Regions from separate parts of the Homo sapiens genome. Here region 2 is linked to region 1. Evidence: fine-mapped expression QTL. Tissue or cell type: testis. Region 1 holds a variant in brackets; the other region holds the start of a gene. All regions are shown on one strand. Distances are from middle to middle.

Region 1 (8,103 bases):
ACGAGATTCCCTCTGTGCCCAGCATCATGCTTGATGCTAGGACACTGCACAGAGAAGTCTGAACAGAGGCTCCTGCCCTCATGCAGCCATTTGTAGCCAGAACAGGCACCCGGCAAAAGGTCAGTGCTCACAGGGTGGGAGAATGCTCTAAGGCTGATGAGGGGTACAGACAGTTGCAGCCACTGCAGAGCAATAGGGGGTCGGCAGGCCTGGAGGAGGAGGTGGGGCTTCAGCTGGCCTTGAAGGCCCTGGATTGGATTGAGAACAGGGCAGAGAAGACAAGGAAGGCTTTTTGGGTAGGAAGATGTGCTGTGAGCAGGGTCTGGAGGCAGAGGTGTGGAAGGCGCATTTGCGAGAACCAAGGTTCATGCTGAAGAGCGGGGAGGCTCCAGGGGAAGAGCATTTTGATTTGCAGGGAGGTTTTATAGTGTTAGTCATTGGGCAGGCAGTGTCTGAGTGATTTAGCTCGTCTAACACAGCGATTGGGGTCATTATTTTGGCTCAGAGCATTGCTGAAAGCCTGGCTTACCTGTCACTGTGACCCTTGGCTTACCCACCTCAAGGATGTAATGGGGCCAGAGGGAGGCAGGTGACCTTCCGAGTCTCTCCTTCTCTTAGAAGCCTGGGTCGAATGGCGCACAGGGAACTCAGGGAAATGGGTGGGAACCCAGTCTTGCTTTAGATTCGCATTGGCCCCTTCTGTGTTGCAGAATGACTTCTCATCTCAGTCACTATCTTAATTTATTGACGAAAACTTGTTTTATGGTCCAGAGCACAGATGGCAGCAGCTCCCTGCCAAAAGAAAGCGTGCCTGCAAATCGGAAAAGCGGGCTGCCTCCCAGGAGGATGGTGGAGGGAGTAGAGCCTGTCTAGCCAGATGCTGCTGCTGGTCCTGGGTGGATGGGCTCCGGGAGGCCAGCAGAGTGGCCCCCTGATGTGCAGGCTGGGGCTGGAGCAGCTGGGGCAGTGGCAGGACCTCCTCACCTCTCTCCACTACCAGCTCCTGACTCATGGCTGCCCTGCTTCAGCCTGGTCTCTTTAGCCTAGCGCATTTAGCCTGGGGCTGCAGGCACCATCCACAGCAGCACAGCACCAATGAGGAAGGACAGGGAAGAGGGCTCTGGGTTCTGGGAGCAGGCATGGCTGTACCACAAGGAGCTCTGTGACTGTGGACATGTTTCTCTGGGGAAACTGTGGACAGGAAGCTTTCAGCAGAGGAACCTGAATTGTTCCATGCATACCTTCAAATATTTAAAGGCCTGTTTTACTTGTTCTTGGTAGATTTCTTGAGCAAAACTAGGACTGATGTGTGTTAGCCACAGGGAAGTAGATTCTTCAGGTAATAAGAAAGAATTCTTGAGTAAAGTTATGCAAAAAAAAAAAAAAAAAGAAAAAAGAAATGGAATAAGTTGTTGGAGGGTGAACACTCAGACCCTGGGAGACCCTGTGTGGCCACCTGCCTCTCTGTGGTTCCAGGGAGCTGCGGCCCTTCTGCCTACTGGGTAGCTTTGACCAAGATGCCTCTGCCCCTTCATGTCTCTCCATGTGGAAGTGGAAGCACCATCCAGTTCTCCCTCCTCCCTGGCCCCCGCCTCTATGGCTGTGAGAATGAAGGAGCTGTGGGGTCCCTGGGGGCAAGGGGCACTGAAAGTCAAAGCAGGGGCACTCCTGGAACTGACATGTTGTCCCTGCTCCCCGAGACGAAGTTCTTGGCAGGTTCATTACTAGCAGGCATGTCAGGCTGTGAAATTAAAGCCTTAAACAAAAAAGTCTTCCCATTCACTAATTTATTAAATGTTATTAAATGTTGGGCCTGGCCCTGGCCCACAGAAAGCATCGGGGAGTGCTGAGCCCTAGCATTTGAAAATCTCCTGGAAGCAAAGAGGGGATGAGGGTGGCAGAGGGGCCAAGGGGTCGGGGTGGGGGCCACCAGTGACACCCAACCCCAGGAGACTGGTTGTCTCCACAGAGAGGCATGAGGCAGTGGTGACCAAAATAGCCAGGGGATATGATGGGCTGTGATGGGGGCTGGGGCAGGTAGGGCAGACGACCTATCCCAGGTCAGTGAGGAGCCAAGGGTGACTGAAAGGGGAGTAATTTGGGGGCCCTGGGGTTTCTGGGAGTGGGGAAAATAGGGTGCACAGAGGGCTTTCTCTGTGGGTTTGTGGGTCTGGGTGTGGCCCTGTACCCGGGCTGTGGTCTGCTCAGGAACCCCCACCTGTCCCCATCACTCATTTATTCATTCCTCAAGCAAATATTTATCTGGTATTCCAGGCATATTCTAGACCTTACAGTGGGGAAAAAAAATGGGTAAGATATGAACCCAGGTCTTGGAAATGCTCGTGTTTTTAGAGAGGGTGGACAGCGAGTCTACACAGAAGCCTAGGAGGGTTCCTAATGTTCTGCTGTGGTCCCAGCCCCAGCACAAGAGGTCACCCCTGGGGAGGGGCCCCCCCTACACCGATGGGAGACTGGTGGCAGCTATGAACGGCTATGGGCAGTGGCTGTCCATGGGTCCTAAGCAGCGTGCAAGTGCGGGTAGAAGCTCAGGAGGGAGGGTAGCTTCAAGGGGAAATCGTGGGCCCCACCCCCAGAGAAATGGGATGTCTGCATGAAATATACCTATGGCAGAAACATATATTAAAACTACAACTCAATATGGTTCAAACAAAACAAGAAAAAAATGCCATAGGGATACTGGGCTAATTACAAGAATTAATAAATGAGGAGTCTGAAGTGCGGGCTCACTATACAGCCATAGCCTGACTGGCCTCAGTTTACCTGCTGTGCATGTGTTGAATGGGCCAGTGGTGATGAGGGAGACCTGAGATGCCCATTGGCTCAGGGCTCCTCCCTATGCCAGGGGCCTGCACCTTCTCCCTCCTGCAAAATCAGGGCAGGGCCCAGACAGGATCATCCTAGGAGGACAACCCAAAGGAATTGCCAAGGGTGAGGCCCCAGTCTGGGGATTTAACCACAAGTACAACAGACCCAAATCCTGGCCCTTGAGGAGGCCATAAGCAAATGCGAGGATGGGAGTTCATCTTCTCAAATTTCGATGTGGGTTTATTTGGAGCCCTGAATTAAAGTTAGTTTGAAATGCCCTCAACTGGGAAAGCAGGCAGGGGAGGCTTGATACTCAGGCTGGCCCCTAGGCCTGCCCCTGCTTGGAGAAGGGCACTGATCAGGCCTGGACCACACTGGGGTGGTTGGCGACTTCTGGTTGGTTGGTGCTGACATTGGCTGGGGCCTGATCCCCTGAGTCACCCTGCCTCGCCCTAGATTCTCCTGCCATAGACTAGATGATAGCTTGGCCATGGCCACTGAGACAACTCTGTGGTTTTGAAAGGGAATTTTCCTGAATGCCACCAGCTAAGCTCTCTGGCTCTGAGCTTTGGCTGTGCTACCACAGGCCTTGCCTCCTTCCTGTACTGGGCGTCCTCCTGCCCTGTTCCTCCCTCTCCCTTCCTGCCACACCCGGCTGACCTCTGCTCACCATTTTCTCCATTCCATGGACATTTTCCCACCACACCAGTGGCTACTCCCACTTGCACTAGGAGCGCTGTGACACCCCAACTTGTGGGGCAGAGGTCAGGCCCAGAGTGCTGAAGTGCTGAAGCTCCTGTAGAAGGTCCTTCCATGTGTCTTTCAGATCCTGGGCTTGGCCTTCTCCATAACCATCACCCAGCACATCCACTGGACTGGTAAGAAGTAGGACGTGTGTGTGGGCTGGCCGGAGTGTCCCCACAAGCCCCTCCCCACTCCCCGCTCCTCTACTGGATGCTCTGTGGAGGCAGAGGATTTGAGCTTTGTGTTGCCAGCCTGCATTCTCCAGATATGACCCCTGCGCCCACCCACCCCTGCCTCAGCCTCAGCCTTCTCAGTGGTGGAGGGGCGGGGAGGAGTTGTCGGCACAGGGAGACCTGGGGCACGGGGCACCTGGATGCCTGCGTCTGTGTCTGCATATTTGCCAGAGATGATGGGGTGGGCTGGGGTGTGCTCTGGAGGAACCCCCACCACCGATGGGTGTCTGTCTCCTGCCCTTCCTCACACTGACATTTTGTTCCCCCCATGGGGTAGGCAGCACAGTGCTTCCGCCTGTGGAGAGACTACCCTTGCGGAGGCTGCTGCTGTCCGTGGCCACTGTGGGGGAGTTGGCAGGGTGGGGTCTGCCTGCTATTGGGCGAGATCCCTTGAGCACCTCGCCAGGCTTTTTATACCTTACAGTGTAACTTCTTAACTTTATTTTACTGTGATTAATTGTTCAGGAATACTACCTCTGAGGTAAGTTAAGCGTTGGCTGTCTGATTGATAACTTTTTACTGTGTTGATTTCTTTAATGGCTTAATTTCTTTTTTCCCTAAGTGTGGGGGACCTGTGGGAATACAGGACCCCCATTCAGTCTCAGTCAGGACAAATCACTATGCAACCCCCACAAGGCTCTCAGATGAGACTCACCAGCCTTCGCTCAGAATGCGTGGAGAGGACACAGGGGTCCTGCCAGTCCTGGCATCTGCAGACAGGAGCCTGGGAGAGGCAGGTGGAGAGAGGAGTGGGAAGGAGGCTAGAGGCAACTCATCACAGGGTGATGGTGTTTGCTAACAGAGCTCAGATGCCAGAGCAGTGGGGGTCCCCTGGGGGCTGGTGAAGTGCTTTGCCAGAAATGCAGCAGAGCTGGCAGGTCCCTGTGCTTTTCACTGAGGAGCA[G/C]TTGTTGGGTTTTTCCTTCTTCCTTCCTCCTGCCCTCCACTGCATGGGAGGCCGCCCCTTCCACCACATGCGGGCCTTCTCGAGACAGGCTCTGCACACCCCAGTTCCTTTCACAGACATTCCTGCTAGAAACTCTCAAATTTCTCTCTAGTGTGGATGCTACTCACTTTCTCCCCTTGCTTCTGGGTTGGGAAGCCATCCTTAAGTTTTGCTACTCAGACAGCGACAGAGGACCCCATTGGGCAAGTGGAAGTGGCGCCCCTGATTGTTCCTGCCAGCTTCACCCAGCCACAGGTTGCCTTGCTGAGAGGGAGGGAAAGATGTCCAGTTTGGTCCTATGATCTCTATCTCCTTCCCAGGGTTCATCGACATCAGCAGTGGGTGGGTGGCAATCACATCCTCTGTGATCTCAAAGAGAAGAAATACAGAAAGCCCAAGAGAGATCAGACTGGCCCTAGACTACCATAGCCCCAGGAAGAAAGAGCTGGAGTCATGGCATGCACACAACCGGACGTGTGAGATGAACAGGCAGGGTCAGGTATTCAATGGCAGGATGCACCCCTCAGAACTGAGGCTGGTCTAGTGTAATGTTTTGCAGTTATGAAAAAGTCAAGAATCTATGGGACTCAGCATGCAAAGGTTATCCACTAGCCAGGATCCAGTGCATGTCGCTGGCTGGGGCATTGGTGGGTGGCAGCCCTTCTTCCTACAGTTGGCTCCATACCCTGGTTTCCCAGCCAGACGAGGTCTCTTCTCCAGCCTCCACCTGCCTGTCTGCTCCCAGGGCTGAGTCATGGCCACCCAGCTCCTAGTCACTCCTCTCTTCATCTTTAAGTAACATATAAATTGGGACCAGGAGGATATAACTTTTGATGTGTTCAGGATTCATATTTTTGGCAGGTGGGAGTGGGGAGTAGGCTGGTCTTAGGGTGCTGGATGGGGTAAAGACAGCTTCTCTGAGACAGGAGCCATGGTGCTGATGGAATATGAGAGAGGCACACATTTGAGCAAAACCGCCCTTCCCTAGTCCTCTGGCCGGTCTTGCTGGTAAGGAGTCCTCCCCGGGAACCCCAAAGTGCAGATTCCAGAGCAAACACACTCCTGTAGACAGATGCTCACCAAACAAGTGCTCAAGTCACCCAGTGGGACCTGGAGCATCATGTGTTTCTGATGTGGGTGGAGTGGGTAGGTTTGTTTATGTAATTTTTAGTTTTTGTTAATATCAACAGCAACAGTCCAGTGCATTGGGAGATGTGTGGCCTCCCTGAAAGTCTTGTTTCTGGAGTGCTTTAGGGGCATCCTCTGGCCCTGGAGCCTTTGCTGCAGTGTCTGCTCCCCCAGCCACCCCCCAGCTCATCTGTCCGTTTGCAGAGCCTTGTTCACAGGTCCTCAAACTGCCTTCTTGGCTCACCCAGTGCTTGGCAGTTTCATCATTTGGCCAAGTCTACATTAGGTGGAAGTCTCCATGCATAGAGTAGATGTTCCTCCAAGCCCCTTGCCTGTCCTGCAGAACGGTCCCCACACCTCCCAGAGGGCCACATCCTGTGATGCCAGTGAAGGTGGCTAAGTGTCTCTCCTCTGTGTCTCCTGACTATGATCTCATTGGGGCAGAATTCCCCTGAGTGAATTCCCTCACTGTCTGCTTCCCTTGCCAACATCAGAGTTAGTTCAATCAGGTCTGATGCAAACAATTTACAAACTTGTCTCAGAAAGTCCCTTTGAGTTTGTAGATGATTACAGTAGGATGTCTGATGTGGACTCAGCCTTTCTTTGCAGCCATCTCACAGAAGGGGTGAGCAGGCAGGGGGTGAGAACTGCCTCCGGGCGGCTGGCAGTGGGTGTCAGGGTGCAAATCTCCTCCCCACAGCCCGCAGCTGGAGCGGTGTCACCCTCTCTCCTTCCAACATGGGCCTGCATCTTGGGCTCTCTGGGGAGGTTGCTGCCCTGCCCTAGAACCTCTTGTAGATGTTCTATTTTGACTTGAAACTAGATGGCCATCCCTCCAGGTTTTGGTGGCCAAAGAGCAGTTCAGGTGGATGGAAGTGACTGTCCCTTCCTCTCTGGCCCCTATATAGGTGGAGGTGCTAACTAGCAGGGACATGGCACAGGATGGGAGCTGGGTGCCAGGTGCCTGGGGTCCATTCTTTGTCCCGCAGACCCTCAGAGTCTGGCCTGCCCCTCTGCTGCAGTGAGGCAGTAGTCCAGGATGGGTCCCTGCTCCAAACGGGCACTCTGAGGAGGCGGGGTCTGAGAGGCATCCCACTGCCCTACTGCAGTAGAAGTCTCGCAGTGGCCTTGGTTGGGTCCTGGTGTATGGGGTTTCCTTGGCTGTCACAGTCACAGTGACACATGGTAGATGAGAGCAGCTGAGAATTCCCCTTGTCCTGGGTCATTGCTAAACCCTATGTCCCCGGAGAGGAGGCAGGCATAAAGAACGAGTGTGCATGTGGGTCTGACAGCAGTTGGAAGTGGGCATCTTGAAACCCCTCTGTGTGTGGAGCTCTACCTCCTGTCCTCAAGGGGGTGGCCAGGTCCACGTGAAATTGTCCCAAGGCATCAGCCTCCAGGGCCCCATCCTGCAGCCGCCATGTCCCAAAGCCTGCAGAGACCACTCTGTGTCTGAAGGGACCCTCTGACACAGGTCCCACTGGAGCAAGGTCCCTGAGAGCCTCCCCAGGAGATTTACCGAGACAGACTCAGTGGCTGCAGGATGTGGACTGGTTAGAGGGGCAGGTGACCCCCATCATCTGTGGAAGACCAGCCAAGTCATGGGAATTTTGGTGGAAGCCACCCTGTCTCTGCTTGTTCTTGCTTTGGCTCCTGCCACCAGGTCTGTGGACCCACCTGTGTGCTTGTGGCTCACAGGGCAGTGGAAAACATCGGCCTCTCTCTTAGCACTGGGCCCCAGTCACACAAGCGGAGCCGTGGAAGACAGGCTGCCCTGGCTGTATATGAGAGGGTCATCTTCCTTCCCTGGGGACATCTGGTGACTGTGCTAGAGCCTTCTGGGATGGATCTGGGCTCTTCAGTCCATGGGAGTGGCTGGGATGACTCTGGGAGCCCCCTCACTGTTGTGTGATGTGGTGGGGGAACTGCCTCCCCACTGGTGCTCAGCAAAGCACAATTGAGAAAGGGTGGCTTACGAGCTGTGGCAGAACCCTGCCAGCCCTTCAAGTGGCTAACACTGGTGCCGGCACACACAAATGTCTATTGGCTCAGACTTACTGAATACTCAAGTAACTCATGCCAAGCACCTAGACAACAGTCAAGGAAGATGCAGACACAGTACCTGTGCTTGCAGGGCCAATCATCCAGTAGGGGCCCCAGAAGAGTGAACATGATTGCAGGTCAATGCTGATGATTATATTCACAGGATGCTGGCTGGCTGTGTGGGAG
Region 2 (8,103 bases), 69 kb before region 1:
TTCTAATGCCTCTACAAAAGGCTTAGAGCTCTCTTCTCACAGACCAGCACCCCTAAGATCAAGGGTGTTGCTTATAATGACTTTTGCAGCTTTCTTCTCCCACGTCTCTGCAATGCACATTCACAAGCCGAAGCTACTTCACTTTATCCCGTTGTGAAGTCCTGGAAAATCATGACGCACAGGCAGAGGACCATAAGCACAGCTTGTTGTTTGGATAGCGCAAGTTAACATACACGTCCCTATCTTTTTTTTTTTTTTTTTCGAGACAGAGTCTCACTCTGTCGCCCAGGCTGGAGTGCAGTGGCGCAATCTCGGCTCACTGCACGCTCCGCCTCCCGGGTTCACACCATTCTCCTGCCTCAGCCTCCCGAGTAGCTGGGACTACAGGTGCCCGCCACCACGCCCAGCTAATTTTTTTTTTTGGTAGAGACGGGGTTTCACCGTGTTAGCCAGGATGGTCTCGATCTCCTGACCTCGTGATCCGCCCGCCTTGGCCTCCCGAAGTGCTGGGATTACAGGCGTGAGCCACCGCACCCGGCCTACACGTCCTTATCTTACAAGTATCTTTAGTTTGCTTCTTAGTTCATCCTGGCCTCCATTTCCAGCACCGAACAGAGCCACCACCTACTAACTTTTCTGGCCTCTAGACCTATGAGCTTTCTGTTTGGTTCCAGACAGGAGAGCTCTCTTCACAGCCACGGGGCTCTGGCTGGAACAGCTTCCCAGTACTGAGACCAGGCATTTCTCTTTCCTTGCTAGGCTAAGGTCTAAGAAAAACTCTGCTCCACGTTGACGTCATCTTTTTTTTTCTCCTCTCCTGAACCTAATTATCTCTGAGACAGTGATTCAAGGAAGAAAGGAGAAGTAAACGCTATCTGGAGGCCTGACTCTTCCATCCTGGTTCCCACACCTCTCTCTTTGGAACTCACTTCTCCAAGCTCTTTGCCAGGTCTGTCTCTTCTAAGCACAAATGTTAGTAAGTCCCAAACCCATTTTACTAATATTAGTAGATCGAGAGCCCATCTTTATAACTTTGGCCTCAATAAGACTAGTGATAGTGTCACTCTATTTACGAGGGGAAAGGTAGTTGCCACGATGCTCTTCGGTTTAGGGGCAATTAAAATGACTACAGATTGGTGGCAGTTTATGGATTTGCACAAGAAGAGAGAACTCACAGAACTAGCATTATTTTACCCTCTGTCTTCACAGAGGTATATTTGGCTGTTTTGTTAGACATTCTGGGGACAAGAAAAAATGAAAAAAGAAAAACATGACTACAGAGGTAGAGGAATTATTACAAGAAGGGTAATCAAAAAACATGATTTACAATTCAATCCTGAGAGAGGGGTATGTACTGAAAAAGCTTTAACACATGAAGGAAAGGGGAAGAAAGGTACCTAACAAATTTTTGAGTACCTCCTATGTGTTAAACACTCTACAGTGGTCTTTTGCTTTTATTATCTCATTTAATCTGTACAACACTATAAGGATACAGCTACTGGATACTGATGCTTACAGAAATTAAATAATTGCTCAAAGTCACAGCTAAAAAGTGGAAAACCAGGGATTCGAATCCAGGTCCAAATGACTCTGCTTTAGTGAAGCTCATCCGGTTGCAAGAGATATCCAGCATAAGTGAAGGGAGGTTCACTGAAGGGAGGTTCACAAACTGAGAGTAAGAATTGAAACTATCTGGGAAAGCCAAAAACAGAGGCAGACTACAAGCTGCAAGGCAGCTCGGACTTCAAGACAGCTCCAGGAACGTCACCAGCAAACACACACCCACGGGGTTCACTCTCCTGCTCAGCCAGGTGCCGGATACAGCCACAATCTCACTCCCTCAGCGCACTCGGTTTCTGCTTATCCCAAACTTTCGCTTACACGTGGCCTCATCAGCCCCTGGACCTTTCAGCTTCAGCTCCCACTGCCAAGTAAAAAGTCTTCATGTCTCCTCGTTCTGAATCCCAAGACAAAAAGCTGACCAGCAGCTCCTCTCAAGACAGAGCACTGGTCAGCCTGAGACTGGTCAGGCTCCCAGCCTCATCTACTCAGCTCGGGCCTTGCACTTGCTGCTCCCCTTGGCCTGGAGAAGGAGTCCTCCTCAATATCCAGGCTTTGGCTCACCTCCTCAGAGAAGCCTCTCCGGCTGTCTGGCCGCTGGACAGTGGTCAAACACCACCCCCACTCCTCACCCCCTAGCTTGCTCTAAGTCACTTTTAAAAAATCACATTACTCTGTATTTAATTTATTCATAGCTCTTAGCACCATCTGAACCTATTTATTCTTCCTCACTGGAATATACGTTCCATAAATAGAGGAACCTTGTCTGTCTTGCTCTTCTCTGGCTCCAGGACTCAGAACTAGGTGCTTCGACACCTCATAGGCATTCAACAAAAATCTGATGAACGAATGAGTAGCCAGCCAGACATCGGGGCTGTAAGTGAAGGTTTCTCTTCCGAGGCTGGGTAACGGAGGTCCCATGACTTGAATACCTATTAGTTAAATGGCCAGTTCTTTAATGGTTTCAAACCGTTTTCAGATAACCCCACAAAAACCCTGTGTGGTATTTTTATAAGCTCTATTTTATAGAGAAAGAAACTGAGACTCAGTAAACTTATATGACTTGCCCAAGGTCACTCAGCAAGTGCTTGAACTCAGGATTTGAACCACATCTGCCAGACCCCCAAGCCACCTGAAACTTTCTATCTCCTCACTTTTCCTCCCACCAGGATAAGTGGGATAAAAAAGACAGACTTGGTTACCAAACTCTAGAATGACAACACTAAACAATACAGAAGAAACGTAAGTATTATTTCACTTCCCCATCAGTGGTAATTATGGATCTCATTATTCCAGAAGCAGCACAGGCTAAATCATAGAGGTTTAGATAAATCTGAGTATAACGGATTCACTAAGCCCTATTAAAAACATTTGCAGTGACTTGTTCAGCCCTCTTCAGGTTGGCTGTGTGGAGGACAACCATCACCTCCCAGTGCCAAGGCACACACCAGGACAGCAAAGCTCACGCTCATAAAACGAGGTTAGAGTTGTGAAAGCACTTCAGGAACATATTAGTTCTTAACGTGTTCATTTTCTTCAGTCCCCAATTATCACTCATTACTGAGTACAGACTATTGTTGTGGGCTCAGTTGTGTCCTCCCCACATTGATCTTGGACATCCCAAGCCTCTGGGACTGTGAGAAAACACATTTCTGTGTCTAAGCCACCCAGTTTATGGTATTTTGTCATGGCAGCCGGGGCTGACCAAGACAACTATGTGGCAGGTACTATCTACCGTATGGCCCTAAAATGTTTTAACTTCACACACCTGGAAAGCACCACAGCCCCAAGAAAAAAGCTTTTCCGCACTGCTGTTAAGCCAGGGCCACACACTGCAGTACTGCGGTGCTCCACCAGCTGGAGGATGGCCTGGCCCATAATACCCGCATTCCCACCTTGCTCTGGCCCTGTGTCCCCTCCAACGTGCATCCTGAGCTCGCACCCTGTGTGGAACCCAAACAGCTGCTTATCAGCATTTAAGTCCATTTTTATGACACTTCCGTCAACAATCTGGTCAAGTGCACTCATTCCTGGCCTCCGTACTGTACCCTGCTCCGCCTCGATTCCCGCCCTGGGGGAAGCTAGACTCATGCAGCTAACTTTATCGGCTCTGGGCTCTGATTGCCAAGTTTAGGATCCCAGCTGTATCCTTGCTAAAGTTAGCATCGCTGGGGCTCAGTTTCCGTAAGAGACAGGTGGGTTACAAGCGCTCACTCACTGTTGCAGTGTCTTATCTACGTAAGATAATCCATGAAAAGCTCAACACAGCTGGGCCAAATCTAAGACCCAGACACGCGGCTGCTGTTAATGCCCACTTCTGCGCACCGCCCAGTTCCACCGCAGGCACAACCTTCCTAGGCCTACCCGTCCCCACACAGGGGTTCCCGCTTGTCAATCACGCTGGCCCGGCCCTCCACTTCCGGAATGTTTTCCCGCTCCGGACGGGCCACCCACCTTTGCAAATAGGGGTCCGGCGCCGGAACAGACGCCCAGTTTGCGATTTCACCAGTCTGCCCTTCCTCGTCCCGCTGCTCCTCGTCCTAAGGAGCTCTGCTGCCACACAGCACTGCGCTCACCTTCTTCGCCGGCAGAATTGCTACGCTGAAAGCCAGGCCCCGGGAATCAGGGCAAACGCCACTGAGTTAGAAACTGGCGGGTCCCCTCAGTGAAAGGCAGCCGGAACAACCCCCGCCGCTGCGCATGCGCACTCCGGGACGCGCGCGAACACGCAGCAGCGAGAATCTACAGGGGCGTGGTTTGCGCACGCGGGAACTGGGATCTCAACCCCAGGGCTAGGTGCCTCCTCCCGCTGCTTTCCGCCAGCTGCGGGGTGTGAGATTAATCCCCGCCGATTAGCGCCAGGTGTACTAAGCGCTGGATGGTTCCCTGACCAGATGAAACATCAGCCGATGTTCTAATGCCGGTCCCCTGGGCGCTGTCCCCGAGAGGGAAAACCTGTTTTCTGACCCCGGCTCTAGTCGGCCTCTGGAGGTCTGCAGCTGGGTTATTTTACCTTTGAAACGGACGACACCTGCCCCGTGCACCCCAGCGGCTCCTCCACACGGAGAGATGGTGTCAGTCAAAGGCCGTCTAGATGACGAGTTTATGAAATTGTTCCTGGCCCGTGCCGGGCACGACCTTGCAGAGAGCCCAGAAGATGAAACCCCAGCCCTGCCAGGAGCTCACCTGCTAATTAGGAGGACAACGAATCACCTCACCTCCCTAGACTTTGCTTCTCCTTTATTCAGTGAGGGATTGGACTAGCTGGTCCTTGAGGACTTTTCAGAAAGTCTGGTTCTGGGAGATGACCAATGGGATCATCTTATGCTATGAGCTTTCCTGGAATGACAGGTAATTGGTGCGCCTTCCCAGCAGGGTCAGGGAGAGTTGCTGGGACTTGAAGGAAAGGCTTTTGGGGAGAGGAGCCAGTGTTACAAACTATCGAAAAGCTTGGAGGTGGGAAATTTACAAAAGGTGATTCCAGGGTCAGCTTTTTTGTCACCTGCTTCCGACTTCGGCAGTTTGGAGAGGGCGAGTAAGTAATACCCTTCAGGGTCTTGGGATGTGGCCCAGCAAAATCCTTAGAGGGACTTTGAAGTCTTAGTTTTAAGTTTAGAATTAATGGGCAGAGTACTTAAATAGCCATTTCTCCAAAGATGTATACAAATGGCCCACAGGCCCATAAAAATGTTGCATTCCACCCTATAACATGTTTTTGCATAAAAAAGTTTTAAAATAACTGTTGTCTGGTAAATTGACACCTCTGGAATAGAATGTATGCTAGGTTTTTTACCCTACTGCTTCAAACCCCATCCTACACACACACTCCTAGGGTGTGCATCATCCAGTTTAAGAAGCACCCTTGGAGAAACAAAGTTGATAGTGTGTCCAGAATTGATGGGTTCTTGGTCTCACTAACGCAAGACTGAAGCTGCAGACCCTCGCGGTGTTAGTTTTTAAAGGCGGTGTGTCTGGAGTTTGTTCCCTCAGATGTTCCGATGGGTTTGGAGTTTTTTCCTTCTGGTGGGTTTGTGGTCTTGCTGGCTCAGGAGTGAAGCTGCAGACCTTCGCCTGAGTGTTACAGCTTTTAAGACGGCATGTACTGGAGTTGCTAGTTCACCCCGGTGGGTTCGTGTATCTCACTAGCTTCAGGAGTGAAGCTGCAGACATTTGCAGTGAGTGTTACAGCTCATAAAGGCAGTGCAGACCTAAAAAACAAAAAGAACAAAGCTTCCATACTGTGGTAAGAAAATCCTAGTGAGTTACTGCTGCTGTCTTAGGGCAGCCTGTGTTTATTCTCTTCTCTGGCCCCACCCACATCCTGCTGATTGGTCCATTTTAGAGAGAGCTGATTGGTCTGTTTTACAGAGAGCTGATTGAGCCGTTTTGACAGGGTGCTGATTGGTGCGTTTATAATCCCTGAGCTAGACACAAAAGTTCTCCAGGTCACCACTAGATTAGCGAGATACACAGTGTCGATTGGTGTATTTACAAACCGTGAGCTAGACACAGAGTGCTGATTGGTGCATTTACAAACTTTGAGCTAGATACAGAGTGCCGATTGGTGCATTCACAATCCCTTAGCTAGACAAAGGTTCTCCAAGTCCCCACCAGATTAACTAGATACACAGTGCCGATTGGTTCATTCACAAACCCTGAGCTAGACACAGGGTGCTGATTGGTGTGTTTGCAAACCTTGAGCTAGATACAGAGTGCCCATTGGTGTATTTACAATCCCTTAGCTAGACATAAAGGTTCTCCAAGTCCCCACTAGACTTAGGAACTCAGCTGGCTTCACCAAGTGGATGCGGCAGCGGGCAGCAGGTGGAGCTGCCTGCCAATCCCGCGCTGTGCACCGGCACTCCTCAGCCCTTTGGGGGTTGATGGGACTGGGCACCGCGGATTAGGGGGCGGCGCTCGTCGGGGAGGCTCCGGCCGCGTAGGAGCCCATGGCTGGGGCGCCGGCAGGCGGCTCAGTCATGGCGGGCTGCTCAGTCATGGTGGGCTGCAGGTCCCGAGCCCTGCCCCGCGGGGAGGCAGCTAAGGCCCGGCGAGAAATGGAGCACGGCAGCTGCTGGCCCAGGTACTAAACCCCTCACTGCCCGGGGCTGGCGGGCCGGCTGCTCCGATTGCGGGGCCCGCCGAGCCCACGCCCACCGGGAACTCGCGCTGGCCCGCAAGCGCCGAGCGCAGCCCCGGTTCCCGCCTGCGCCTCTCCCTCCACACCTCCCTGCAAGCTGAGGGAGCTGGCTCCGGCCTTGGCCAGCCCAGAAAGGGGCTCCTACAGTGCAGCTGCGGGCTGAGGGGCTCCTCAAGCGCGGCCAGAGTGGGTGCCAAGGCCGAGGAGGCGCCAAGAGCGAGCCAGGGCTGCGAGGGCTGCCAGCAGGCTGTCACCTCTCAATAGGACGTGAAGGTCGGTCGGGGTCTGGTTGTAGAAGGCTTTAAACAACAAGCTAATAAATTTATACTTCACACTGTAGACAAGTTGCAAGTCACTGAAACATTTTTAAACAGAGGAGTGGATTTGCAAATGCAGTGTCTTGGAAATATTAAGCTGGAAGCAGTGTGAAGGATGGTTTGGTGGGGAGAGACCAGAAGCAAGCAGCCAAGTTGGGTTGTGCAGTAAACCAGGCAGTGCAGTAGAGGCTTGGACCTCAAGAGTGACAATAGACATGGAGAGGACAAAGGCCGTACCCACCAGGCTGTAAATCTGCATTGTGTCCCTCCATCCTCCCCTCGCTTCTGCCCTGGAGGCTTATATTTAGAGAGCTGTACTCCTAACGTGAGGCCCTGGGCTTTGTCTCAAAGGTAAAGGCAAAAGTTCCTTATGTGGACTACCTCTGCATTTGTTATTAAACAGCCTTAGATGATGCCATTAATTGAATGAACTCAGAGGCCTTCTTGATAAACTCTCAAAACTCAGGGCTTAGGAAGAAAAGTGCTTGTACTAATGTAGAAATATTTTCTATAACCGGACAGTGAGAGCTGTAGAAACCCATTATGCATTCTTCTTTGCCTTCACTGCTAGTGATCTCAGGGCTAAATATTGCACATTGTTTTAGTTTTCTTTGGCAAGCATTTTTTAATTTTGTTGTTGTTGTTCTCATTCCTTCTTGCTAATTTTAAGTGCATGTTCTAATAAAGTCTGACTGCCTGGTGGGCAGATCACGAGGTCTGGAGATCGAGACCATCCTGGCTAACATGGTGAAACCCCGTCTCTACTAAAAATACAAAAAAAAAAAAAATTAGCCGGGCGTGGTGGTGGGCGCCTGTAGTCCCAGCTACTTGGGAGGCTGAGGCAGGAGAATGGCGTGAACCTGGGAGGCGGAGCTTGCAGTGAGCCGAGATCACGGCACTGCACTCCAGCCTGGGTGACAGAGCGAGACTCCGTCTCAAAAAAAAAAAAACAAAAAAAAACAGTCTGACTGCCTGGATCCAGATATTCCCCACTCCACCATTCAACTGGCTGGATGACCTTGGCCTATGACTTAAGCCTTCTGAGTCTCTGCTTTTCTCACGAATAAAATAAAGATAATAATAGGA

Evidence for each region. PIP is the estimated chance that this variant, and not a neighbour inherited with it, causes the effect.
Region 2: DDX11-AS1 starts here. The variant in region 1 is fine-mapped to the expression of DDX11-AS1 in testis (GTEx, PIP above 0.99).

What each region holds. Positions count from the first base shown.
Region 1 is chr12:31,001,398-31,009,500 of GRCh38, reverse strand. TSPAN11-AS1 (TSPAN11 antisense RNA 1) reads left to right here and starts at 3,529. Exons shown (of 3, transcript XR_007063261.1): 1 at 3,529-3,704. It also overlaps a transcript of TSPAN11 not described here. The variant G/C (reference allele first, on the strand shown) is at 4,708.
Region 2 is chr12:31,070,003-31,078,105 of GRCh38, reverse strand. It overlaps DDX11-AS1 (DDX11 antisense RNA 1), which reads left to right and starts at 4,259. Exons shown (of 3, transcript NR_038927.2): 1 at 4,259-4,911. It overlaps DDX11 (DEAD/H-box helicase 11), which reads right to left and starts at 4,246. Exons shown (of 27, transcript NM_030653.4): 1 at 4,015-4,246. RefSeq lists enhancers at 3,002-3,531, 3,392-3,551, 4,082-4,191, 4,064-4,595.